Linked DNA regions of Homo sapiens. The protein of the gene in region 5 purifies or fractionates together with the protein of the main gene of each other region. This does not show direct contact. Each region holds a gene or a part of one and is shown on either strand. Other genes may lie near its edges.

Evidence for each region.
Region 1: the proteins of ELAVL1 (region 5) and POC5 purify together in Homo sapiens (co-immunoprecipitation; one large-scale study listed by IntAct). This does not show direct contact.
Region 2: the proteins of ELAVL1 (region 5) and RMDN3 fractionate together in Homo sapiens (co-fractionation; one large-scale study listed by BioGRID). This does not show direct contact.
Region 3: the proteins of ELAVL1 (region 5) and PPP2R2B purify together in Homo sapiens (co-immunoprecipitation; one large-scale study listed by IntAct). This does not show direct contact.
Region 4: the proteins of ELAVL1 (region 5) and OCIAD1 fractionate together in Homo sapiens (co-fractionation; one large-scale study listed by BioGRID). This does not show direct contact.
Region 6: the proteins of ELAVL1 (region 5) and URM1 purify together in Homo sapiens (co-immunoprecipitation; one study listed by IntAct). This does not show direct contact.
Region 7: the proteins of ELAVL1 (region 5) and KLF2 purify together in Homo sapiens (affinity purification with western blotting, with the first as the bait; one study listed by BioGRID). This does not show direct contact.

Annotation. Positions count from the first base shown.
Region 1 is NC_000005.10:75,673,624-75,676,530, forward strand, and holds the end of POC5 (centrosomal protein POC5), read right to left. Parts: intron 956-2,907; coding exon 812-955; 3' UTR 501-811; downstream 1-500. UniProt on the Homo sapiens protein: Essential for the assembly of the distal half of centrioles, required for centriole elongation. Acts as a negative regulator of centriole elongation.
Region 2 is NC_000015.10:40,748,755-40,752,254, forward strand, and holds part of RMDN3 (regulator of microtubule dynamics protein 3), read right to left. Parts: intron 3,425-3,500; coding exon 3,232-3,424; intron 2,917-3,231; exon of another isoform or gene 2,816-2,916; coding exon 2,672-2,815; intron 1-2,671.
Region 3 is NC_000005.10:146,585,258-146,588,757, reverse strand, and holds part of PPP2R2B (serine/threonine-protein phosphatase 2A 55 kDa regulatory subunit B beta isoform), read left to right. Parts: 3' UTR 1-3,500. UniProt on the Homo sapiens protein: The B regulatory subunit might modulate substrate selectivity and catalytic activity, and might also direct the localization of the catalytic enzyme to a particular subcellular compartment.
Region 4 is NC_000004.12:48,858,588-48,862,087, forward strand, and holds the end of OCIAD1 (OCIA domain-containing protein 1), read left to right. Parts: intron 1-1,569; exon of another isoform or gene 1,570-1,616; intron 1,617-2,137; coding exon 2,138-2,175; 3' UTR 2,176-3,228; downstream 3,229-3,500. UniProt on the Homo sapiens protein: Maintains stem cell potency. Increases STAT3 phosphorylation and controls ERK phosphorylation. May act as a scaffold, increasing STAT3 recruitment onto endosomes. Involved in integrin-mediated cancer cell adhesion and colony formation in ovarian cancer.
Region 5 is NC_000019.10:7,999,142-8,002,641, forward strand, and holds part of ELAVL1 (ELAV-like protein 1), read right to left. Parts: intron 3,064-3,500; exon of another isoform or gene 2,976-3,063; coding exon of another isoform or gene 2,911-2,975; intron 1-2,910. UniProt on the Homo sapiens protein: RNA-binding protein that binds to the 3'-UTR region of mRNAs and increases their stability.
Region 6 is NC_000009.12:128,377,874-128,381,373, reverse strand, and holds part of URM1 (ubiquitin-related modifier 1), read right to left. Parts: intron 3,380-3,500; exon of another isoform or gene 3,339-3,379; coding exon 3,268-3,338; intron 1-3,267. UniProt on the Homo sapiens protein: Acts as a sulfur carrier required for 2-thiolation of mcm(5)S(2)U at tRNA wobble positions of cytosolic tRNA(Lys), tRNA(Glu) and tRNA(Gln). Serves as sulfur donor in tRNA 2-thiolation reaction by being thiocarboxylated (-COSH) at its C-terminus by MOCS3.
Region 7 is NC_000019.10:16,323,479-16,327,625, reverse strand, and holds the start of KLF2 (Krueppel-like factor 2), read right to left. Parts: upstream 2,801-4,147; 5' UTR 2,703-2,800; coding exon 2,628-2,702; intron 2,411-2,627; coding exon 1,594-2,410; intron 771-1,593; coding exon 595-770; 3' UTR 1-594.

The DNA.
Region 1 (2,907 bases), on a different chromosome or scaffold from region 5:
AGAGTCCTGGAAAAATGAAGACTAACATGTTAAAGCCACAAAAAACGGGGCCGCGCGTGGTGGCTCATGCCTGTAATCCCAGCACTTTGGGAGGCTCAGGCGGGCGGATCACTTGAGGTCAGGAATTCGGGACCAGCCTGGCCAACATGATGAAACCTTGTCTCTACTAAAAAAAGATACAAAAATTAGCCGGGCATGGTGGCTGGCACTTGTAATCCCAGATACTCGGGAGGCTGGGGCAGGAGAATTGCTTGAACATGGGAGGAGGAGGCAGTGAGCCGAGGTCACACCATTGCATTCCAACCTGGGTGACAGAGCGAGACTCTGTCTCAAAAAAAAAAAAAAAAAAAATCATTATTACACTTGGTCTTTTTTAAATTAAAAATAAAAATATCCTAGTTTCCACTAGTTCTAATACTTTGTTTTTAGTAAGGTTCCCTCTCAACACTTTGAGTGAATTACAGCTGTGTAATATTGGAAATGATTTAGTGTTTTATAAATAGTGAAAATAAATTTATATATTTTGATGCTGTAATCAGCAACAGGCTAAACATATTAAAGAAATAAAGTCCAGTTTCTTTTTTAATTTAAAAAAGTTTTACTTAATTGCTTAAATAAAAAATAACATTAAAATAATTTCTACATATAGTTACAAAGCATGGTAGAGCTTGAAAAAGCCTCTTGTAATTTTGAACAGATGAACATGATGTCTCCATGATGTTCTAACAATATGGAAAAGTTAAAACCAAAAGACTTCTAACCCTTGGTAAGACCAGAGGGATTAAAAGACCCCACTATGGACATATTCACTTTAGTCAACCACTTTTATGGAATGAACACTTGTGAGAGACTGGGTGTGAGCTGATCTGGTTCCAAGTGATCTGGAAGCTGAGGTACTACTTTCAGGATGAATGGTCCGGGGATATTTTGCTGCAGTTGCTTGAGGAATGGTTTGCTGAAAAGACAAAATTCTGCTTTAATAATATCCCAAGATTATGTATACTATGTATCATTTCATCATCTATCATCTATAATTTAACCCAATAAACATTTGTTAAGATCCAGTAGAAAGAAGCAATGAGTGGAGTGAAGCAGCTGTTAATTAGATGAGGCCTTTGTCTGTAAGGAACCCCTACCCAGTCTGACTGACATGTTCAACACCCACAGTGTAATATCAGAGCTATATCCACAAGGCTCATTAAGAAAGCCACGGCAGCCATTCCTCCAACAGGGCCAAGTGGAATCTTGTAATGTGTACAGAGGCTTTGTATACAGAGAGAAACTCTGTGGTGTCTGGAAGAGGGGTCAGCCCTGAGTCCTCCCCTCATTCCATCCAACTTCCTTCTCTCTACTTGACTGTTAGTATGTGGATGTGATTATCTCACAATCCCAGGGGCACACGGAAGCCCTCAGGATGCAGTCTGGTCCTTGCTTTAAACCAGAGCCCTCATATTTAACCTGGTTCACCTGGGAGCAGACTAAAACTTTTATGCACATCACCTCAGAGCTCAAAGGAACACCTCAGACATGAGCACTGAGTCATTAAAGTCAGGACACACGTGACTTACTTGACACACATAATATGCATGTAATGCATGTAAGTACACACTATGTATACAAGTACACATTTACATGTAAACATGAACAATATGTATCAGTACAAGGCTTTTCCCTATTAAACCCGATAAAGCTTCTTAGTAGCCAGCAGTGGGATTTGTTATCAAGTTCTCAGTCCATATCACTGACTAGGACATGTCAATTTCTATTAGGGTCTTCCACTTAGAAAAGTCATTGTTAAAATAGTTTAAGTAAAATTACATGTATTTGGTCAAAACATTCACTATGTATTTAAAAAACTCCAAGCTGTAGTTTTTGCTTAAAAAAAGAATGAAACTTCTTAAAAACAAAAGATCCTGTCAGATTCCATTTTAAAAAGAACAGAACTCCTTTTTAAAGAAAAATAACTTCTTTTCTTAAAGTATCTTATAAAAACGTTTATTTGTACATAAACAACTGGATAACCATTATAAATAGGAGATACTCTTGCAACAGATAAGAAATTTTAGTTGCCAGTCACCTAATTAGTTGCCAGCCACTAACCTGAGCCTGCCAAAAAGGCTTTCTCCTTGAGGAGGATGGGCAAGAGGAACTGTAGAAATAAAGTAGCCACTGAAATTATGATACACAAAATATGACAGAGAATGAAGTGGCCCTAGAAGCATGCAGTTACCCAGCAGATGAGGCTACAGTGTCACAAATCGCATCCTTGGTTTTTTAGTAATAACTATTTCTGGTAGATTTAGATCTTGATTCCCAGGGTGAAAAGAAATACAGTACAAATGACTGCCACTGTGTCTGTCACATAATCCAGGCAGCTGATGGCTATCTGGTTCATACACAGTTAGTGGGTAAGAAATGCACATACTGAATAAAGGGAGGGCAGCATGGGAGATAAGTATCAGAAACAAGGGTTCTAAATGTTTAGTACTTTGATTTTTCTTCTGTAAAATATGAATTCCCATCATTACTACAAAACAAAAGCTTGTCTAATAAAAAATAAACACACATGTGCTCTCTTTACACCTTCTTTACCTCACAAATGGACAGTCTCTCACCATCTCTATACATTTTCTACATCTGAAAAAACAGAAGTGGGTTTATTTCTTCTCATTTTTGATAACTTGTCTTCCATATTCAAAAATATATAGAAAAGTCTTCTACGAACTTTCAGAGTCTGTCCAACTTATGAAACATGAAACCTAAGATAATTCTAAAATAAATCCTCTGTCATCTCCATGTCTCTATCTGGACTTGGTGCTTCTATCTCCAGCCTTCCACCTCGCTAAGGTCCCACTTCACCTGAAGTTCAGTTCAAATCAATCCAGCTTGTCTTCATTTAATCATCTA
Region 2 (3,500 bases), on a different chromosome or scaffold from region 5:
ACGCCCAGCTAATTTTTCTATTTTTAGTAGAGACAGGGTTTCACCATGTTGGCCGGGCTGGTCTCGAACTCCTGACCTCAAGTGATCTGCCCACCTCAGCCTCCCAAAGTGCTGGGATTATAGGCATGAGCCTCCACACCCCAGCCTCAGTAATTTTTTTTTTTTTTGAGACAGAGTACTGCTCTATCACCGAGGCTGGAGTGCAGTGGTGCCATCTTGGCACACTACAGCCTCCACCTCCTGGGTTCAAGTGATTCTTCTGCCTCCGCCTCCTAGGTAGCTGGGATTACCGGTGCCTGCCAACATGCCTGGCTAATTTTTGTATTTTTAGTAGAGACGAGGTTTCACCATGTTGGCCATCTGGTCTTGAACTCCTGATCTCAGGTGATCTACCTGCCTTGGCCTCCCAACGTGCTGGGATTACAGGCCTGAGCCACCGCGCCTGGCCTAGTACAACTTCTTTAAATCATCACAAAGAGGACCAGGTGCGGTGGTTCATACCTGTAATCTCAGCACTTGGAGGCTGATGTGGGAGAACTGCTTGAGGCCAAGAGTTCAAGAACAGGCTGGGCAACACAGTGAGACCCCATCTGTACAAAAAAAATAAATAGAATTGGCTGGGCATGGTGGCACATGCCTGTAGTCCCAGCTATTCAGAAGGCTGAGGCAGGAGCACCACTTGAGCCCAAGAGGTTGAGGCTGCTGTGCTGTGATGGCACCATGGAACTCCAGCCTGGGCAACAGAGTGAGACCCTGTCTCAAAACAAAACAAAACAAAAACAAAAACAGTTGTGAAGGGCCTCAAGCTTTCTTTGATTTTGGGCAGAGCTGTGACCTCTCCTTCTGTTCAACCTCCTTACAGAGTTCAAACATCAATTCCCCACCCAAGTGGCCTGCTTCCTTGGGTTGCAGAGATGTTCTTTACATCTCAGTGCCCACTATCAACTACTTCCTCGGTCTCTCTCTTCAATTCAGATGTATCAAATATTAATTTCATTTTTGCCCCCTCTTTAACACAACTTCTGGAAGCATCTCTTGGCCCAGAGCCATTTAGGTAAATTGAATAGAAAAGGGCCACCTCTGTTTGCCCTTGAGAATGCAGATAACAGGGATCTGACAACCCAGGCAACAGCAGTCCCCCATGGAAGAGCAGAGAGCTCTTCACCACCACTCCACAGGTTTCTGGAGACCCCGGAGCACTCATCAAATCCAGCGTTGGTGATAATGACATTTCAGTCAACCACGGACTGCGCATATCAGTGGGTGCATACGATTATAATGGAGCTGAAAAATTCCTATCACCTAGTATTTACATTGTATTTTATTTTTCTGAGGCAGGGTCTCACTCTGTCACCCAGGCTGGAGTGCAGTGGCACAATTATGGCTCACTGCATCCTCAAACTCCCGGCCTCCCAAGTAGCTGGGACTACCGACCCATGCCACCATGCCCAGCTCGTTTTTTTTTTTTTTTTTTTTTTTCTTTGAGATGGAGTCTCACTCTGTCTCACAGGCTGGAGTGCAGTGGCGCAATCTCGGCTCACTGAAACCTCTGCCTCCTGGGTTCCAGCAATTCTCCTGCCTCAGCCTCCCGATTAGCTGGGATTACAGGCATGCACCACCACACCTGGCTAATTTTTGTATTTTTAGTAGAGACAGGGTTTCGACATGTTGGCCAGACTGGTCTCAAACTCCTGAACTCAGGTGATCCGCCCACCTTGGCCTCCCCCAGGTAGTTATTTTATGTAGAGACGTGGTCTTGCTGCCTTGTCCAGGATGGTCTCAAGCTCCTGAACTCAAGCAATCCTCCTGTCTCGGCCTCCCAAAGTGCTGGGATTACCCATGAGCCACCACCACACCTGGACTGATTTTAACTTCTAGTTTCCATGTACCTGCTTATAGCTAATTCCTCTGATCCAGCATAAAACTTGGCTGTTCTCTACACCAGTCTTTCCCTTAAGAAGAATAAAGGCTGGACAAGGAGAAATCGGCCTCTAGGCCTCACACAGGCTACCTGAATAACTGGAGCTAGCAGCAGATAAGGTCAGATGGGTCAGATGCTGCTACTGACATCACACTCTATCCTTGGGACCAGAGTTTCAAAGTGGTGCTAGTGGTTTAAACTCAAAACACCCTTAGCATGACCAGACTTGGAGGAGGCTGTCCACCAGACTCCTGCCAGCTGCCCCGCCTCACAGAAAGGCCTATCGTCAGCCCTCCTGGGCCACTGAGAACTCAGGACATCCACCTCCCACCTGTAAAAATGCAAAGGATCACAGGCAAGGCTCCCCTGTGGGAAGAGGGTGACTCCCAGGGAGGAGCATGCTTCGTGCTTAGACATCTCCGTATACCAGCTCAGCCACCCAAGGAAAGGAACAAAGTCAAACAATGCTTATCAAGTCCTTGTGATAACACAGAAAAATGCCCAAATAATATATCATAACTATGTAATAAACTAAGATAACAGATGCAAGCAATAACTGCTATTAACATCTACATTTGTCTGAATGACATAAATTGGATGGGTTTTTTGTTTCAACTCTTCTGTATTTATTATACTCTTACCTGTTCCAAAAATCATTTGCAGCAGCTTGGTTTGAATTTTCCATTGATAATACTTTTACAAAACACAACCTGGCTGTAGCCATAACTGCCTCCAAGAGAGACAACTCACCCCCCTTCACTCTCAGCATCTGTGAACGTGGCTCCCGAGGAGGCCGTGAAGTAGACAGAGCTGGAGCCAGTGGAGTCACTCCTCTCCCGGACAAACGGAAACCTTCGCCGCCGAGCCACTCTCTGGTTCTCTTCCATGTGGCATCTGGAAAGCAGGCCCCATCCCGAAGGGTACCATTAGGTCCCATCCAGCTTGTCTTTCTGCTCACCATGGGGTGCCTCTTACTACTGCTCCTCATTAAAGGGCTAAAAGCAGAGAAAATCCTAAGTCTCTAACCCTCAGGAGGGCAAGCAGGGCAGCTTCCTGGGCCCAGCCCGCACAGACAGACTAGGTTAGGCAAACAGAGCGCTTCAGCTGCTACAACAGATCAACCATGAGAGTCCAGAAGCAGCAAGGAGCATGTGCAAGGCGAGGTACCAAATGTACAGCTTCAACCCAGATTAGGCTAGAAGCTATAGAACTGGTTTATTCTTTAGAGACAGACAGCGAAGGCCAGAACACACCCCAGCTGAAAAGCTGCAGGGGAGGGATAAAGCAGGAGAAGAAGCCGCATTACTCACCGGACCTCCCCAACAATCTCCCCCGCAAGCCCTCGCAGGCTGCTTCTCAGCTCCTCCACCTCCCGCCGCAGCGCCACAAGGCTGGTCAGCACAAAGTCCAGGCGGTCCAGCACCTTCTCCTGTCCTTCCCGTGGAAGGCTGGGCAGCACTGAGGCATCTCCAGCCCCACCTGGGACAGCCCGCAGGAGCATCACTGAAGGGGGAAACGAATGGGAGCCAGTGACACACAGGAATATGGTGGGGAAGAGATCTCACACCCAGAATTCAAG
Region 3 (3,500 bases), on a different chromosome or scaffold from region 5:
AAATCAAGCAGCTGTGACATGAAGTGAATGAAGTCCACTTGAAGCTGTGGAAGATGGTTCATCCTTTTCCCCAGTTGAGGATCCAGATTTATAACTTCTAGAAAGCCATTTCCAGAAGGTTCTATGTGGCACACCCCTAGGAAAGGCACTAAATGCATGCAAAGGATTTATAAACTTAGGAAAGTAGATGGGTGGAGTCCAGAAAACTGGTTCTGGGTTAATATCTCTACATCTGTCTTGATGACTCATTTCTCCTAACTCCCATTTAGTGCAGGGTAAATGGTTTGAGATGAGAGTTTTTCAATGAAAGGGAAATTTTCTTTCAGTTTACAGATGTATTAGAAGTCCTGACTTTCAAGTGTAATTTGCTTTGGAGGAGGAAAAAATAGTGAAAGAATCATTTTATCTCAATTCTAAGCTACTATCCATTTACTAATAGCTTTTTGGCAAGGAAATAACTGTCACCTTAGGTAAAAACAGTCTTGTTAGATGCAGCCCAATTTCAGGAACATTAAAATGTAAAAAAGTACGTCTCAGAATTGAGGGAGCATGGGAACAAAGACGAGACTTTCTCAGTATTTCTCATTTTTCCTGCAAGGAAAGCCTCGCCTTAGGCATCTCAAGTAAAGTGGCTAAGGTGTAAACTCTCTGGGCAAGATTTCTGTCCTGACTGGGACAGTGTTCTTGGAGGAGACATGAGAGAGTCAGAAACTTCTGCCAGTCATAGAGAGTGATGATTTTGCAGAAGGCCACTGGGTTATTGGCCTACATTTACCACCGACTTCCTTTATGGCCTTTTCTCCACTTCTCCGGACTCAGCTCCTCTGTCTGTACCACGTCGGGGGTTGGGACCAATCATTGTATCTCAAACTTAAGAATCAACTCACATTTGTACTATTACTCATGTAACATTTTTTTAAGTCACCTTTTCTTAAAAGCAAGACTTAGCCTCCTCCAAAGAAATAATATGCATGAAATTTCAACTCTGATATGCTAGGTTTTTCCCTAACATTAATCACATAATTATCAATGTAACAAACATGCACCCACATACCACCTGAAATCATTTTGTGAACCACCAGGAGCATGTGTATCAAACTTTGGGACCCTGAGTAACTGATATGACAGAAGATTTATGCCCTTAGGGGCATCAAAGATGGTGGTTCTTCACATATTAGAGTCAGCAGGGCTGCCCATAACACACACAGGAATAATTTTTGTCATGGTTTAAGGAGTTCATAGGCCCCTTTGCAGTTTATCTGCGAACTCCAAATAAAAGCCCCTACACTAGTCCAACACCCTTAGCATATAGATGTACAAACTGGGATCCAGAGTAGGATGAGTTTGCCAGAGAAGAAAGAGCAGAGGGCAGCCATCCTCTCCTCCATCCCCTGCAAAGGATGCATTAGAGCAAACACCCAAGACTCCTGGACGGGAACAGGAGGGGAAAGCCCTAGAGATTAGGCCTCAGGGAGCAATAACCACCACGATGTTTCACAAATTAACTGTTCTTTACCAGGTACTGAACTAGGTATTTTACATGTGTGATCTTTCAGCCCCAGTACTGGCAATATTTCTTAGTTAGTGGCACATAGAAGTCAGTCTGTTTTCCTGCTGACACTAAAAACTACTTGAAGGCTGATTTGCTACCTTGCAACAGTTGGTTCGATTCTAAGGGCCCTATACTACTTTACCCCACAAGGCCTGCTGCTTGGTAAGAGCCATCAGATTACAACTGGAGGGTGTCAGTTGAATGAAGGAAAATGGAAGCCACGCCATCCCTGGCTTTTACAAAAACCATCCTTGCGCAACATTCAGTTCCTGACGTTAAAAACAAGTAATGCAAAAAGCTGAACTTTGGTAGACATTCGTACTCTTCTGTCAGGAGGAGGAAGATTAGTTAGAAAAAACAAAAAAGGAAGATACTAGCCAGCATCAAGAAGTGGGATATATAAAGGCAGATGGGCAGTGGGAATCAAGTTGCTTCTTAACTCCTTCAAGTTTGGCTCCTGCCTTTACTCTTCCATTGAAAAAAAAGCACCTTTAAACCTCTCATTGATCTTGTAATTAATTCAACCAAATCAACTTCTATTAGGCAACCAGCATATATAAGATGGAACAATTGCAAGGTGGAATAAAGATGAAGCTAAAATTCTGCTAGCTCAGTGGCCCAATGAAATAAGTCAGCTATCTCCACTAAACTTCCTTTGAATATTCTAGGGTCCATTATAATAAAAGGTACACACTCAAATGCCCAATTTCTAAGGACTTGAAAAGCCATAATTTCCCTCCCTTCAAGCCTACAGAGCAACTGCCTAAAGCTTCCCTCCCCAGACAACCCCAGGCCTCATTTCTTTTTCAGTCCCTTTGCTAGCTGCCTGCAGGGCTCAAGAAAGCCCTGGTAGGCCTCATAATGAGGATTTAGGGATGACACTATAGTCCACAGCCTGAATGGTGGAACCCTTACTAATTTTCCCTCTTCCGTGATGAATGTGTGGATGAAGCCGGTGTGTTTTTAATAATGCCACCCCACTTCCAAAACAAATCCCCTGACACAGTCTTTGGACATACCACCCTGAATGCACCCGATCTCATCTGATCTTGGAAGTGAAATGGAGTCAGGCCTGGTTAGTCTTTGGATGGGGGAAGTCTAGACACACCACTGAGAAACATTCACACTGCAACCTGATTCACTGTGCATCCAACATGCCTTCATCCACCTCTTCCCCCTGAACTTCTAAGTCAACTCTCAGGGACTGCTTTCCAAGGGAGCAACCAACCTGGTCAGTGGAAAAAGGATGAGACTGGGAGACAGGAAACGTGGGTCCTGCTCCTGGTAACCATGGAACTTAAGCTACCCACTCAGTCCCTATGTCAGTGTCATCACCTGTAAAATGGCCAGAAAGACATCTATCCTAGCTCAGAGAATTGTTATTGGGAGAACAAGAAATCCATTTACTTACAACTATTTTGATAGGTTTAAAGCACCATAAACTAATAATAGCAACAACAGTGATGGGTAATATACTATTGCTTTCCATGCCTCATCTCATTATCTCCTCTCCCAGACCCCATGGTGGCATTAGTATTTCCATTTTGCAAATGAGAAAATAGACTCAAGTTGTCAACCTAGCCAAGGGCACAAAGCCCGAGAGAGATGGAACCAGGACTCCAACTCAAGGTATCTGACTCTAAAGCCAGAGCTGTTAAAATACAGCTCTAACATACAATAGTTGCTAACATTTATTGAGCACTTATTATAAGCCAGGCTTTGTTCTACAAATTTCACATGTATTGACTTATTTACCCCTAAAACTCCAGATGCAGATACTATTGTTGTTCTCATTTTATAGATACAGAAACAGATGAATGACAACCAAATTTACACAGTTCACAAGTGACAAAGCCAGGCAGTTTTAGTTAAAGTTCTTATCCACTATCCCCATCATACATTATGTGTGTGTGTGTGTGTGTGTGTGTGTGTGTGTGTGTGTGTGTAT
Region 4 (3,500 bases), on a different chromosome or scaffold from region 5:
GGACTACAGTTGTATGCCACCATCCCTGGCTGTTAAAAATTTTTTTTGGTGCAGTGGGTTTTTCCCTATGTTGCCAAGGCTGGTCTCAAACTCCTGGGCTCAACCAGTCCTTTCACCTTGGCCTCCCAGAATGCTGGGATTATAGGTGGGAGCCACTGTGCCTGACCTTTCTTGTACATTTGTGAATTTGAAAGAGTTATATGCCAGCTTCTAAGGCATTTCTTAAAGATGAATTTTTAAATCCTGGTTTCTTTTAAGTCTTTTTGGAATAGCTATACATTAGCCAAAGTAAATTTTTTGATACAAGTTTACCTCTAAAGGAAGAGGACATTCGAATAGGGTTTTATAGCTATTTCAGTATAGGGTTTTATGATTTTCTCTTAAGGAATTTCAGAGTATGTGTCATTGTTTCAAGATTTTCTATTTACTACTTTAAAAATGGAAATAATAGGTCTTTGGTACCTTCTTGAAGGTCATATGCCACAAAGAATGCAAAAATACATGAAAGTCCTTAGTATTTGTTGTTATGGTCATTTTTTAGAGCTAATTTTATTTTTAATCATTAGCGGTTGCTTCGTTTGGAGTTCTGTTTTTATAACAATGATAGATAATATCTGCATCATATTATTGATGTAAAAAAAATCTACCTTTGAAATGAATTAGGGATGTACCATACTTTTGAATGTTTGTCATCAAACAACATTTAGCATAAACTGCATCTAGTGGCCATTGCTCTGTAATATGTAAAGACTTGTCGGTACTTTGTCCTGCTAATTAATTTGAGGATTTAGATTGTAAGCTCTGTGAGGGCAGAAAGTAATATTTTTCTCATTTTTGTAATCTTTTCTATTATTGTCTGCATAGCATAGTACTTTACACTGTATCAGAAATTGAGTATTTTGGTTTAGGCTTCTATGGTAATAGAGGTTAAGAAAGGAAATTTGGTAGACCTTTAACATTTGCTGGATTTTGACATTTTTGATTTTTGACTGAAGTCTTCAAGTTCTGTTACATGACACAAGAATGTGAAATGATTTTTTCTTTTTTTGGGAAAAGCTGGTTTTTTGTGTGCTTTATATAATTTAAAGAAAAGACTTGTTATGAAATAGTTTCAGTCATTTTCTGAATTATTGTTGAAATTAGTACAGGGTAGATTCACATGGTCAGAAAGTGTCACTTAAAGTTTTCACCTTTAGCTTATGTGGTTGATATTTATCTAATTAGAAATTAAGACCCAGAAATTTAAAAAATTCAAGCACATATTCCATTAGCTGCCAGAGCAATGTCACCACACATCCTGTAGCTTCTAGAAAACCATGTAACATATACTCATGAGGGAATGAGAGCAAGGGGAAAAGGCAAAATGTGAAACATAAGGATATATAATGTCTTAGTATAATAATGAAATAATTTTGACTTCATGTATTCCCTGAAGAGTCCACACTGTGATAACTGCTGCTTTATATTGTTATGATTACTCACAGACAGAAGCTATGTGGAAGAGAAGCAAAAAAGTAAAGGAGTAGAATAGACAGCGGAGCATGTTTTAAAATGTAAAATATAGAGTACCTGTAAAATGTAGTAGTATTTTCTTCTTATAGTAGTATTTACAGCCCTGAGAGAGAAGATTGAATTAATTACAACTTGAACACTTGACCATTTCTACTGCTGTATTTTTTGTGAAAAACGAAAATTCAAATGTTTGTTTTATTATTTCCCACTATTTTTTTTTTTTTTTGTATATGGCTTAATATGTGCCACACTTAGGTAGTATGGTAAAGATGTAAAGGTACCTAGGCTTTGGATCTAAACAGACCTATACTCAAATCTCAGTTCTTGTTAGGGCTTGTACCTTGGGCAAGTTACTAATCTTTTTTCTCACCATTAAAATGAGAATTGTGTTTAGAAGTTTGTTATGAGGACTAACTATTTATGTAAAATTCTAGATACAATGCATTTGTCCAACCCCAAGTTCACAAAAGTCTGGTCATCCCCTTTTTGTAATTATAATTTGACTCTCATGTGCTTTTATTCAAATGAGAGAGAAACATAACTTTTCATCATAGCAACAAACTTAAAATAATGTCTTTTACTTATTATTGCTTGGAATCATCAATTATTTATGCTTTTTTCCTAGTCAAAGTAAACAAGTATGGAGATACTTGGGATGAGTGAAAAATTACATCATTGGACATGAAGGAGTTTCAACATCCAGCTTCATCTAGGTGGTCATGATTACCTGCATGCTTTGAGCTCAGCAGCAGTCTTCATAAACACATTTAAAACAAGATCCTGGGTTTTTGTGGTTTGACTTCTATGGTGTTTTAAAAAAACACAGATTTTTAGTGTTAATATTGTGTAAATGTACTCACCTTAGGGATTCATTTGAATGATGGTATTATACCATGATTGTATACAGTTTGTGAAATTGTTGCAAGGGCAAAGATAACTCTTAAAAAACCGTCGAGATTACAATGCTCTAGAATCAGCATATAAGAAAATAAATGATATCTGCATGTTGAATTGGGGTGGATGGGGGGAGCAAGCATAATTTTTAAGTGTGAAGCTTTGCATCAAGAAATTATTAAAAAGCTTTTTTTCTCCAGTATTTTCTGTATTATCTTAATGTTTATGGCAAATAAAATGTAAAGGAACATGCAACAGCCCTCATCTTCCTTGATTTTATGGTTTTATTGTTTGTAATTTATTGATTTATTTTTAAGCTAGTTATAATCATGTAGGTATAGGAAATAAAGTCATCTATAATATTTCTATAATATGGCTATAATATGGCTATAAATCTATAATATGGCTGGAGGCAGTGGGCAGTGGTTCATGCCTGTAATCCCAGCACTTTGGGAGGCCGAAGTGGGAGGATTGCATGAGTCCAGGAGTTTGAGACCAGCCTGGGCAACAAAGCGAGACCCTGTCTTTACAAAAAAATAAAAATTAGCTGGCGATGGTGTCGTGTGCCTGTAGTCCTAGTTACTTAAGAGGCTGAGTTGGGAGGATCAGTTGAACCCAGTGGTTCTGGGTTGCAGTGAGCTGTGGTCACACCACTGAACTCCAGCCTGTGCGACTGAGTGAGACCCTGTGTCTAAAAAAATAAAAATATAATGAATGTGATTTATGTAGATAAATTGATAATATAGTAAATAGGTAAATGCCTTAAAAAGCATTTTTAAAGAATTTGTAAATTCTAAAACAATAAAAATTTGGTATACATCACAGAGACTGATATTATGTTAAAAAGAAAAATTGGTGTACAGTGACCCTTCGTATCTGTGGGTTCCGTATCTGCAGATTCAATCAACTGCAGATTGAAAATATTTGAGGGAGAGAAATGGATGGTTGTCTGTACTGAACTCTTGTTATTCCCAAACAATACATTGTAATAACTATTTACATAGCATTTACATTAGGCATTACAAGTAATCTATAAATGACTTAAAGTATATAGGAGGATGTGCATTGGTTATATGTAAATACTACACCATTTT
Region 5 (3,500 bases):
GTAGGCGGATCACCTGAGGTCAGGAGTTTGAGACCAGCATGGCCAACATAGTGAAACCCTGTCTATACTGAAAATACAAAAATTAGCTGGGCGTGATGGTGCATGCCTGTAGTACCAGCTACTCAGGAGGCTGAGACAGCAGACTCACTTGAACGCGGGAGGCAGAGGTTGCAGTGAGTCAAAATCACGCCACTGCACTCCAGCCTGGGCAACAGAGTGAGACTGTCTCAAAAAAATAAAAAATAAAAGGCCACCTTCCCCCAGGACAACAGGTTACTTACTCTAGTTCTCAGTGCCTCCATGCCATTGCTGTAAACCTTTGTTACTGTCCCAACCACTCCTATCATTATTTGCCTTACACTCAATGACCAATGTCAGTGGTGAGAACCTTGAGGGCCCAGGTTATACCATTGCCATCTAAGAGTCCCCAGGCAAAGCCAGGGTGTGTCACACAGCAGTACAGGAGGCTGCTGGCTCTCAGACCAGGCTGGAGTGCAGAGGCATGATCACGGCTCACTGCAGCCCCGGCCTCCTAGGCTCAGGTGATCCTCCCACCTAAGCCTCCCAAGTACCTAGGACTGCAGGTGCGTGTCACTACGTAGTCCTACTAAGTCCTCTATGTAGTTCTGTCTAAGCTTTTTTATGTTTTGCAGAGAGGGGGGTCTTGCTTTGTCACCCAGGCTGGAGTGCAGTGGTGCGATCTTGGCTCACTGCAACCTCCGCCTCCTAGGTTCAAGTGATTCTCCGGCTTCAGCCTCCCGAGTAGCTGAGATTACAGGCACCTGCCACCACGCCCGGCTAATTTTTGTATTTTTAGTAGAGACAGGGTTTCACTACGTTGGCCAGGCTGCTCTGGCACTCCTGACCTCAGGTGATCCACCCGCCTTGGCCTCCCAAAGTGCTGGGATTACAAGCATGAGCCACCACGCTTGGCCGCTTTTTTATGTTTTGTAGAGGCGGGGGCGGGGGGGTGTCTCGCCATGTTGTTCAGGCTGGTCTTTAACTCCTGACGTCAAGTGATCCTCCTACCTCAGCCTCCCAAGCACTGGGCTTAGAGGTGAGAGTCACCGTCGGTGCCTGGCCTCTGGGAGAAGTCTTGTTTGGATGATCTCTGAAGGTTTTTGACTCCAATGCACTATTTTAAACAATCCTGGTTGTCTATGTGACATCAGTGATGTTGTTCACATCCGTCGATCATCTAGCGCATATCCAGGGGAGAGAGATGTGTGTGTCTTTATGTGTGACAGAAAAAGAGTGAAGCAGTGAGGCTGCTTTCCACCAGGCAAGCATGAGAATCACTTTCATTGCACCATGACGGAGCAGGTATTCTAAACCACTTGAGCCAGAGCAAAACTAGAACAGTCAAATCTATCTTCAGGCTCAATCTTGACACTTCACACATCATCTGACAGGGCTTGGACCCAATAATGTTTAAGGTCCTTTCCAGATGCAACATTCTGAGTCTTCCAGGTAAAAAAGGCTTAGGTCATTCAGGAAATGCTCTGCTGCCAGAAAAAACCCAAAGCACCACCTGACCCAGTTATAAATGCCATGCAAGGCAAGGTCTCAGGTGGACATGGCACCAGCTTCTTCCAAGCCCCTGCCCATGGCCCACAGAAGGGCAGGATGCCTGGCTGGAGCAGCTCCAGCTAAGTGACAATTCCCTTTCAGCCAGGCTGAGAAGCCCGGGGCAGGAGCAGGTCAGGTGTGGCTGGCCTGTGGCCCAGTCCAGGCACCCCACAGCCCTGCTAAGGGCTCTGGCTTCTTTCTGGCTGGTCAAGGCCAAAGGCCACTGCAGGGATCTCACACAGAAGTGCAAAGCAACAGGGCATGGCAGGAAAAAACCCTGAGCTCTGGAGCCTGGCAGGCCCGAGCTGGGCACTAAGTCTCCTGCTCATCAGCTGAACTACTGTGCAGAAGTCGCTCCCCTTCCCAGAGCTTCAGCTTCCTCCACTGGGGATGTCACCCCTTGCTCCACAGTGCCTGGTACAGTGAGTACCTGTCTCTAGTCCCACTTCATGAACAAAATCAAGGCGAATGTATGTCTCCCCAACCTCCCTGTCTGCAGCTACAAACACCTTCATCTCCTCTCCTCCTGTCCTTGCCCTCTCTTCAAACCGCCTCCGCCCCCTGAATTACTTCATTTGGTGGCATAGCCCCACCTGTCCCCCAAGCCACCTCTCTCTAGCCCTTGGACCTAATCAAGCACCATGTCCTGCCAGTTTGACATGTGAGATCTCTCACCGTCCTGCCACCTCTCTGCCACCATCCCTATTCAGATTCCTGTCACCTCCTGCTAGACCGACTCCTAAGTGGGATTGCAAACTCAGTGTCTCTAAACCCAGCTTCATCTTCTTCCTCCTAGTCACTCCCCTTCCTTGAGTCTGCCTGTTTCTGTTCATGGTGACATGAGTCTGGCCATCGAGCTGTTCAGGATTGTTCCCTCTCCTGTGATTCCTTCCCCTGACATAAACGTCTCACTCTTAAAAAAAATTTTTTTTTTTTTTAGAGATGGGATCTCGCTATGTTGCCCAGGCTGGTCTTGAACTCCTGGCCTTGAGCAATCTTCCACCTTGGCCTCCCAAGCTGTTGGGGTTACAGGTGTGAGCCACTACACCCAGCCACAGATGTCTGTTTGACAGGTACCTGGATCCAGTCGCTTCTGAGTAGTCTGCCAATCTTTCCTTTCCCTGGCACAGACAAAATATCAACCACGTGCCAGGCACAGAGCAAAGCATCAGGCATACAAAATATAGAAGCAGTCCCAGTCCTGACCCTCAAGCGGTTCAGCCATTACGGGGCCACCTCAGTACTGCAACAGCCTGTGACTGGTTTCTCCTTGTCTCCCCCCAGCCTCTCCACCAGGGTGAGCAGTGAACTAAAACTGCTCAGTAGCCACCCCTGGCCTACCTGCAGGGTAACAGCCAAGCCCTCTGCCCAGTGGACACCTGAGCACTCCTGCCACCACTACCCATCTCAGCCTTCTTGTCCCTAAAGAACCCACGTGGTTCTTTGAACACACGATGTTCTCTGAACACTGCGATGTTCCCACCTCCGGGCTTGGCTGTATCCTAAAAAGCCCCACCCTATTGTCTTTGCCTGGTTAGCTCCTCCCCACCGCTACTGCCTCCTCTCCTCCAGGAAGCATTCTGGGCTCTCCTGTGCCCACCCAGGTCCCTTTTCTGGGCTTCCACATCAGCCAGGGCATAATTCTCACAGCACTCATCAGAGTGGGCTGAGATGACCTACACACATCATGCACACTCTCCAGAGCCTAGCGGGGGCCCAGGACACAGCAGCGGAGCAGGGAGAGTCGTTCAGAGGAGGGAGCGAGCCTCACTTCCCTCCCACAGGCTGGCTTCCGTTGGTCTTCCCCTGACCCACAGCTCGGGTCGGCCGCACCGCCTCGCTACTGCCACCTAGGGGCGCCAGCCGGGCGCTGCGCTTCTCTCGCCATTCAGCCTTGAATTCGATTCAATAAACTGAATGGGATGGGAACA
Region 6 (3,500 bases), on a different chromosome or scaffold from region 5:
ATTAGTCCTATTCAAGTACCCTTTGGTTCTCCTCATGCCAGTTACTAAAAGTTGTAATGACGCAGTTATACATTCATTTGTTTACTTGTTTATTCCCTGGCTCCACTCCCATTACACTGCTAACTCTACTAGGGCAAGGACCACATCTATTTTGCTCACTAATGAATATCCAGTAACTTAGTACAGTGATGGCACAAAGAGGGCATTCAAAATAGATTTGCCAACTACATGAAAGAATAAAGTACTTTGGGGCTGGGCGCGGTGGCTCACACCTGTAATCCCAGCACTTTGGGAGGCCGAGGCGGGCGGATCACCAGGTCAGGAGATCGAGACCATCCTGGCTAACATGGTGAAACCCCGTCTCTTCTAAAAATACAAAAAATTAGCCGGGCGTGGTGGCAGGCACCTGTAGTCCCAGCTACTTGGGAGGCTGAGGCAGGAGAATGGCGTGAACCCGGGAGGCGGAGCTTGCAGTCAGCCAAGATCGCGCCACTGCATTCCAGCCTGGGCAACAGAGCGAGACTACGTCTCAAAAACAACAACAAAACAAACAAAAAAAAACATACACAAATTAGCCAGGTGTTGTGGTGCCTGCCTGTAATCCCAGCTACTTGGGAGGCTGAGGTGGGAGAATTGCTTGAACCCAGGAGGTGGGGGTTGCAGCGCGCTGAGACTGCACCACGGCACTTCAGCCTGGGAGACAGAGCGAGACTCCATCTCAAAAAAAAAAAAAAGAAAAGAAAAAAAAAAGAAAATTTGTGGGTTTTCATGTCAGACAAACTCCACAGGAAATAAATAATAACTTGTGATATTTTAATAAACTTCCAGGCAAGGTCTTTGAGACTGAATCTTTGAGAAGCTTCTTCTGAGAGCACCATGTGCCCTCCCAAGGCTGCATGGCCATCTGTCAAACTAAGAAACAGTCACCTTTAGCACCCCATGTCTTCCTCGACCAGGGACACACAATCCTGACATGAAACCCCAGCCACATATCCCCTCCCAGCTCAATGTGGGCAGTGACCTGCTCCTCAGTAAGTGTCCCCCCCCCAGCCTCCACGTGTGGCAGACAGACCCCACCCTGTGCCACTGCTCTCCAACCTGAGGGAGGGACAGAGAGGTGCGGCAGCCAGTGAATCTGAGCAATAATAATTGATTCCTGGCAGATGTGTGTCCAGTTCCAGAAGAATCCTGCCAAATCTCACTTGACCATTTTCTTTTTTTCTCCCCATACATATTCTGCTTATGTATTTTTTTTTTCTTTTGAGACAGGGTCTCACTCTGGCACCCAGGCTGAAGAACAGTGTGTGATCATAGCTCACTGTAGTCTCGATCTCCTGGGCTCAAGCAATCCTTCAGCATCAGCTTCTAAAACAGCTAGGAACACAGGTGCATGCCACTATGCCTGGCTAATTTTTTATTTTTTTGTAAAGACCAGGTTTTGCCATGTTACCCAGGCTGGTCTCAAACTCCTGGGCTCAGGTAATCCTCCTACCTCAGACTCCCAAAGTGTTAGGATTACAGGCATGAGCCACTGTGCCTGGTTTATTTTATTTTATTTTATTTTATTTTTTTTTGAGATGGAGTCTCGCTCTGTTGCCCAGGCTGGAGTGCAGTGGCATGATTCGGCTCACTGCAACCTCCGCCCCTTTAGGTTTAAGCAATTCTCGTGCCTCAGCCTCCAGAGTAGCCGGGATTACAGGCGCATGCCACCACGCCCAGCTAATTTTTTTGTATTTTTAGTAGAGACGGGGTTTCACCATCTTGGCCAGGCTAGTGTTGAACTCCTGACCTCGTGATCCACCCGCCTTGGCCTCCCAAAGTGCTGGGATTACAGGCGTGAGCCACCGTGCCCAGCCAACACCTGGCCTATTTTCTTATTTCTTTTTCTTTTTTTGAGACGGAGTCTTGCTCTTGTTGCCCAGGCTGGAGTGCAATGGTGCGATCTTGGTTCACTGCAACCTCTGCCTCTCAGGTTCAAGCAATTCTCCTGCTTCAGCCTCCCAAGTAGCTGGGATTACAGATGCCTGCCACTGCGCCAGCTAATTTTTGTACTGTTAGTAGAGACGGGGTTTCATCATGTTGATCAGGATGGTCAGGAACTCCTGACCTCGTGATCTGCCCGCCTCAGCCTCCCAAAGTGCTGGGATTAAAGGTGTGAGCCACCACGTCCGGCCTGACTTGACCATTTTCTACCGCCCACCTCCAGGAACCTCATTTCCTGTCTCTTAATATAACTGATGCCCTCTTCTCCCCAGAAGTATCTCAGTCATAGGTGGAGACTGGAATCCCATCCCTGAGCCCTTGCTAGAACCCACTGCTAAGGTTACAGTGAACACCTGCCATATCCGGTCCCCAGCCCCTAGGCTATCCTGACAGTTACCCAGCCAAAGATCTGCAAGTTCATTCTTTTTTTTTTTTTTTTTTTTGGTGACAGAATCTTGCTCTGCCACCCAGGCTGGAGTGCAGTGGCACGATCTCGGCTCACTGAAACCTCTGCCTCCCAGGTTTAAGCAATTCTCCTGCCCCAGCCTCCTGAGTAGCTGGGATTACAAGCGCGCACCGCTATGCGTGACTAATTTTTTGTATTTCTAGTAGAGATGGGATTTCGCCATGTTGGTCTAGAACTCCTGGTCTCAAGTGATCCGTCCGCCTCGGCCCCCCAAAGTGCTGGGATCACAGGTGTGAGCCTCCACACCTGGCCTGGGACTGGCTTTTGTTCATGTCTGTCTCCACAGTGATCAGCACATGGTCTGCTACACAGAAGGTGCTCAGTGTATATTTGTTCAAGAAAGATTAACAAGTTTTTTTTTTTTTTTTTTTTTTTTTTTTTTGAGATGGAGTCTTGCTTTGTCGCCCAGGCTAGAGTACAGTGGCATGATCTCGGCTCACTGCAACCTCCGCCTCCCAGGTTCCGGTTCAAGCAATTCTCCTGCCTCAGCCTCCTGAGTAGCTGGGATTACATGCACGCGCCACCATGCCCAGCTAATTTTTGTATTTTTAATAGAGACAGGATTTCACCATGTTGGCCAGGCTGGTCTCGAACTCCTGACCTTGTGATCCACCCACCTTGGCCTCCCAAAGTGCTGGGATTACAGGCATGAGCCACCCGGCCCAGCCGTGTAGACTCTTGTTTTTATTCCTCTGCCTGCTAGAGAGGCAGCTTAGCACACGGATGCAGAACACAGGCCTGAACGGGGCTGAGTGTTCCCCATGGACCAACTCCTGTTCAATGGCCCCAAGAGAGGGGTTCAGAAAGCCAATACTCACAGGGTTCCTCCTGTCCAGGCAAAGTGACTCGATGTTTCTTAATACCGTCAAACAGGAGCTCCGCACCACCTCTGCAAAGGAGGACCAGAGAAAAAGACAGCCAGGTGAGCTCCTGCAAATAGGAAGAGGTAGCGGAAACAGAAAACTGAGGATAGGGCTGGTAATGAAGGCCGAGAGAAGCAGAGACTAAGGTGCAGAAACACCTTGGGTGCAGTGACTAATTCTTTTTCTCC
Region 7 (4,147 bases), 8.3 Mb from region 5:
TAGTGGGGCTGCCCTCCATCAAACTCTCCGCTCCCCCCTCCTCCCAAGTGCCCCAAGGCCCCAGTTCCAAGCAACCAGACCAGTGCTGTGATTTTTTTTAAAAGATGCAAAACTTTTTAATTAAAAAAAAAACCAACCCAGCAAAATCTTATAAAAACGAACCAGGTAGCCCAAAAATGCCCACCTGTCTCTCTATGTACAGTAATACAATATTTGTCAGTCACTATATACAATATTATAAAAAATGCCGCAGACAGTACAAATTAAGGCCCTTATTTCTCACAAGGCATCACAAGCCTCGATCCTCTAGTGTAGACCCGGTGGGAGAGAAGATGCCACTTAAATTATTGCACCATTTTGAAAAACAAAACTCGTCAAGGAGGATCGTGGTCTTTTCCCACCGGGCCTTCAGTCACAGACGGGGGCTGGGGTGGTGGCGTCGTCGTCGTCGTCATCGAGGGAGACCCTCTGTAGCCACGCTGTGCCCGGCCCGGTTCTCTGGGTCCAATAAATACCAGTCACAGTTTGGGAGGGGGCCGCGCCCGGCGCGTGGGACCCGCCACGGCCGCGCGCAGGTGGGCGGGGGCGTCCCGGCTACATGTGCCGTTTCATGTGCAGCGCCAGGTGATCGGAGCGCGAGAAGGCACGATCGCACAGATGGCACTGGAATGGCCGGTGGCCCGTGTGCTTTCGGTAGTGGCGCGTGAGCTCGTCTGAGCGCGCAAACTTCCAGCCGCAGCCGTCCCAGTTGCAGTGGTAGGGCTTCTCACCTGCAGGGAGGGGGCGAGAGTAAGCGTCAGTTCCCCTCCCAGGACAGGGCACGTATGGCTACCCCGGCGAGCGCAACCTATCCCTAACCAGGGCCTTGACGCGCTCCCCGCGGTAGTGTTGCGCCCCTGAGGGATCCTTGCCCTACATCCCCAACTCCCCCCACAATCCGGATCCTCACCCCCAGGGGGTCGGAGGAGCGCAAGGTCCACTCCCCACTGTTGTCAGCCACGCTCCCCGACGGGTCCTAAGCATGCACCCTCTCTCCAGCATTCTAAGACACGGAATCTCTCAAGGTTTCCCAGCGAACACTCCCTCCCCAAGGTCCTGAGCCTTGTCCCCAGAGGAGTCCCAAGCCTGAGCGCCCTCCCCAACTTCCTGAGACGCAGCATCTCCCCGGGGTTCCTAAACGCGCACCTACTCCCCAACTACCTGAGCCTCAGCCCCGGGGATTCTGAGCCAAGTGCCCAGCGGCTCCTAAACCTGCTCCCCCTCCCCAACTTTCTGAGACTGTCTCCCTAGCCACGCCTCCAGGAGGTTTTCTAAGTGCTCTTCCCAACCTCCGGAGGCCCCCCTCGTCCTAAGCGTGCAAGCCCCCACCCCAACCTCTCGGATCACACTTCCTTAGGGAGTGTTCCTGTGTGCCCCCCCAACCAACCTCCCGAGCCACGCCTCCTGGGGAGTCCTAAGCGTGCACCACCTGCCAGATCCCCCTGAGCCACGCCCCAAGGGAGGTCCTAAATTCATTTTCTGGCGCGCGCTGGGAATCCGACCTCTCCTCCCGCGTCCCCCCGCCTGCGCTCCTGGCTCGTGCGTGCCGCCCACCTGTGTGCGTGCGCAGATGCGCCTTCAGATGCGAACTCTTGGTGTAGGTCTTGCCGCAGCCCGCGTAGCTGCAGGTGTGAGTGGCGGTGCGTTTGCGGGGCCAAGAGCGGCGGCCGCGCTTTGGCTTGGCCTCCAGCAGCTCCAGCGGGGACGCAGGCGGCGTGAGGAGACCGCGGGCGGCGGGGGGCGCCAGGCCCAGGGCTGCCGCGGCGGCGGCCGCGTCGTCGAAGAGACCGAAGGCTGGGGGCGCAGGCGGCGCGTAATGCAGGCCGGGCCCGGGCGCGCCGAAACCAGGGCCACCGAAAGGCGGCGGGAAGGAGGCGCGCGGACCGGGCGCGGGCAGGCGCGCGGGGCCGTCGGGGCTGAGCGGCGGTGTGTCGGGCGGCGGCGGGGGGCGGCCCCCGGGACCTCGCATGCACGAAGCCGCCGGGCCCGGGGCGCCCTCGCGCTTGAGGCCGCGCGGTCCACGGGTCAGCCCGGGGGCGCAGCCGTAGCCGCCGCCGCCGTCCGCTTCAGGGGGCTCGGCCTTGACCAGGCGGCCGGGCGGCGCCAGCAGAAAGCGGCCGTGCAGTGCGGGCCCCAGCGGCGCATCCAGCTCGGGTCGCAGCAGCTCAGACACCAGGCCACCCGCGGGGGCGCTGTAGGGCGGGGGCGCGCCGGGTTCGGGGTAATAGAACGCAGGCGGCGGGGGCGGCGGCGGCGGCTCCGGGGCGGCCTCGGCGCCCAGGCCATCCAGCCCCATGGACAGGATGAAGTCCAGCACGCTGTTGAGGTCGTCGTCGGTGCCGCCGGACTCGGGTTCGGCGCGCGGCCAGCGCTGCGGGCGACAGGGCAATGGGCGTGAGCGGGCGGCGGGGCTCGGGGGGCGCTGCTTGCCTTTTACCACCCTAAGTCCGCGATCCCCGTGGCCCGCATCCTCCTCTCCTGAGTCTGCAGTCCCCGCCTTCGCGTCCTGTCACCCCGCAGCCCACGTTCTACTACCCCGAGCCCGCCGCCCACGGTCCCGGCCGCCCCGCCGTCCCCGCCGCCCTCACCTCCTGCAGGCCGCGCTCGCGGCACGGGCTGGCGAAAGTGGAGAAGGACGGCAGGATGGGTTCACTCAGCGCCATGGCCGGGACCCGGGGAGAAAGGACGCGGACGGGGACACCGGTGAGTGGCTGCCCGAGGCCGGGCTGGTCGGGGCGCGGGCGGGCGGGGACGGCTCTGTGGGCCGCGGCCGGGCCCGCCCAAGCCTTATAGGCGCGGCGCGCGCGGGGGCCGGGCCAAAGCGGCGGCGGCGGAAACGCGTCCCGGATGGGGACGAGCTCCGGGCGCAGCCTAAATTTAGCCGCGGTATATAAGCCGGCGGGCGGCAGCGGCCGTGGCCACTGCGGCGGCCTGGGCCTTGCGCTGACAGCCCGGCCCCTCGCGCGCCGCCAGGGCCGCGCCTCCCCCTCTCCCGGGCCCCGCCCCCGCCCGTCTCCCCGGCGACGTTGTCAACACGCGCTCCACAACAGCGGCGTGACGCTCAGGGATCCCCCGGGCGCCCCGGGCTCCCGCCTGCGCGAGCATCCCGGGGACCTGGAGCGGGGGCGGTGTCGGGGCCTCTCAGAGACTCTCAGGGGAGCACCGGGCTTGGCGGTCTCCCCGGATCCCTTGACGGAAGGGGAGATTGGCTCCAGCCTCAGAGAGGGCTGCAGAACCCTGGATGGATGGGAAGTCTGGAGTCTCCAGGATTCATGGATGGGTGAGGCTGGGCCCCTCATCTGTTGTGGGACCACCCAGAGGGACCCACCGTGTGCACATCACCCTGTAAAAAAAAACACCTTGTGTAGACCTGGTGCAGTGGGTCACATCTGTAATCCCACCGCTTTGGGAGGCTGAGACAGGAGGATCACTCGAGGCCAGGAGTTCAAGACCAGCCTGGGCAACACAGTGGCCCCCATCTCTTAAAAAATAAAAAAAATTAGCTGGGTGTAGTGGGAGGCTGAGGTGGGAGGATCGCTTGAGCCCAGGAGGTCGAGGCTGCAGTGAGATACAATCACACCACTACACTCCAGCCTGGGTGACAGAGGAGACTGTCTCAAAAAAACAAACAAAACAAAACTTTTGTGTGGTAACATCAAGACACATTAAATCTTTGACATTTGAGACACCCACCCCCTCCTCCCCAACCTCAATAAGCCCGTCAAGTGCAGGGAAACTGAGGCAGAGGTGGCTGGGAGAAGTTGGAGTTGCGGCAGGCACAGGCAGGCTGGGTTCCTTTACTGACTTCCATAAATGAATTAAGTAACTCAGAGGACGGTGATGACAGTCATTCCCCCAATACAGCTCCAGCATCGGGGGCATCAGAGGACAATGCTGCCCAATGGGTCCCTTCAATGCTCCACCTCTGTCCCCCACACCATATCCCTGCTGGCCAGGGACTGTCACTCCTGTTACAACTGTCTGCCAGCCCTGGGTAGGCACTGGGGACACAGTAACCAAGAGATAGACAAGATCCCTGCCCTAGGGGACCTCCACTTTAGTGAAGGAGGGAAGGATAGAGGTTTATTCATTTGAGTTTTTTTGAGAC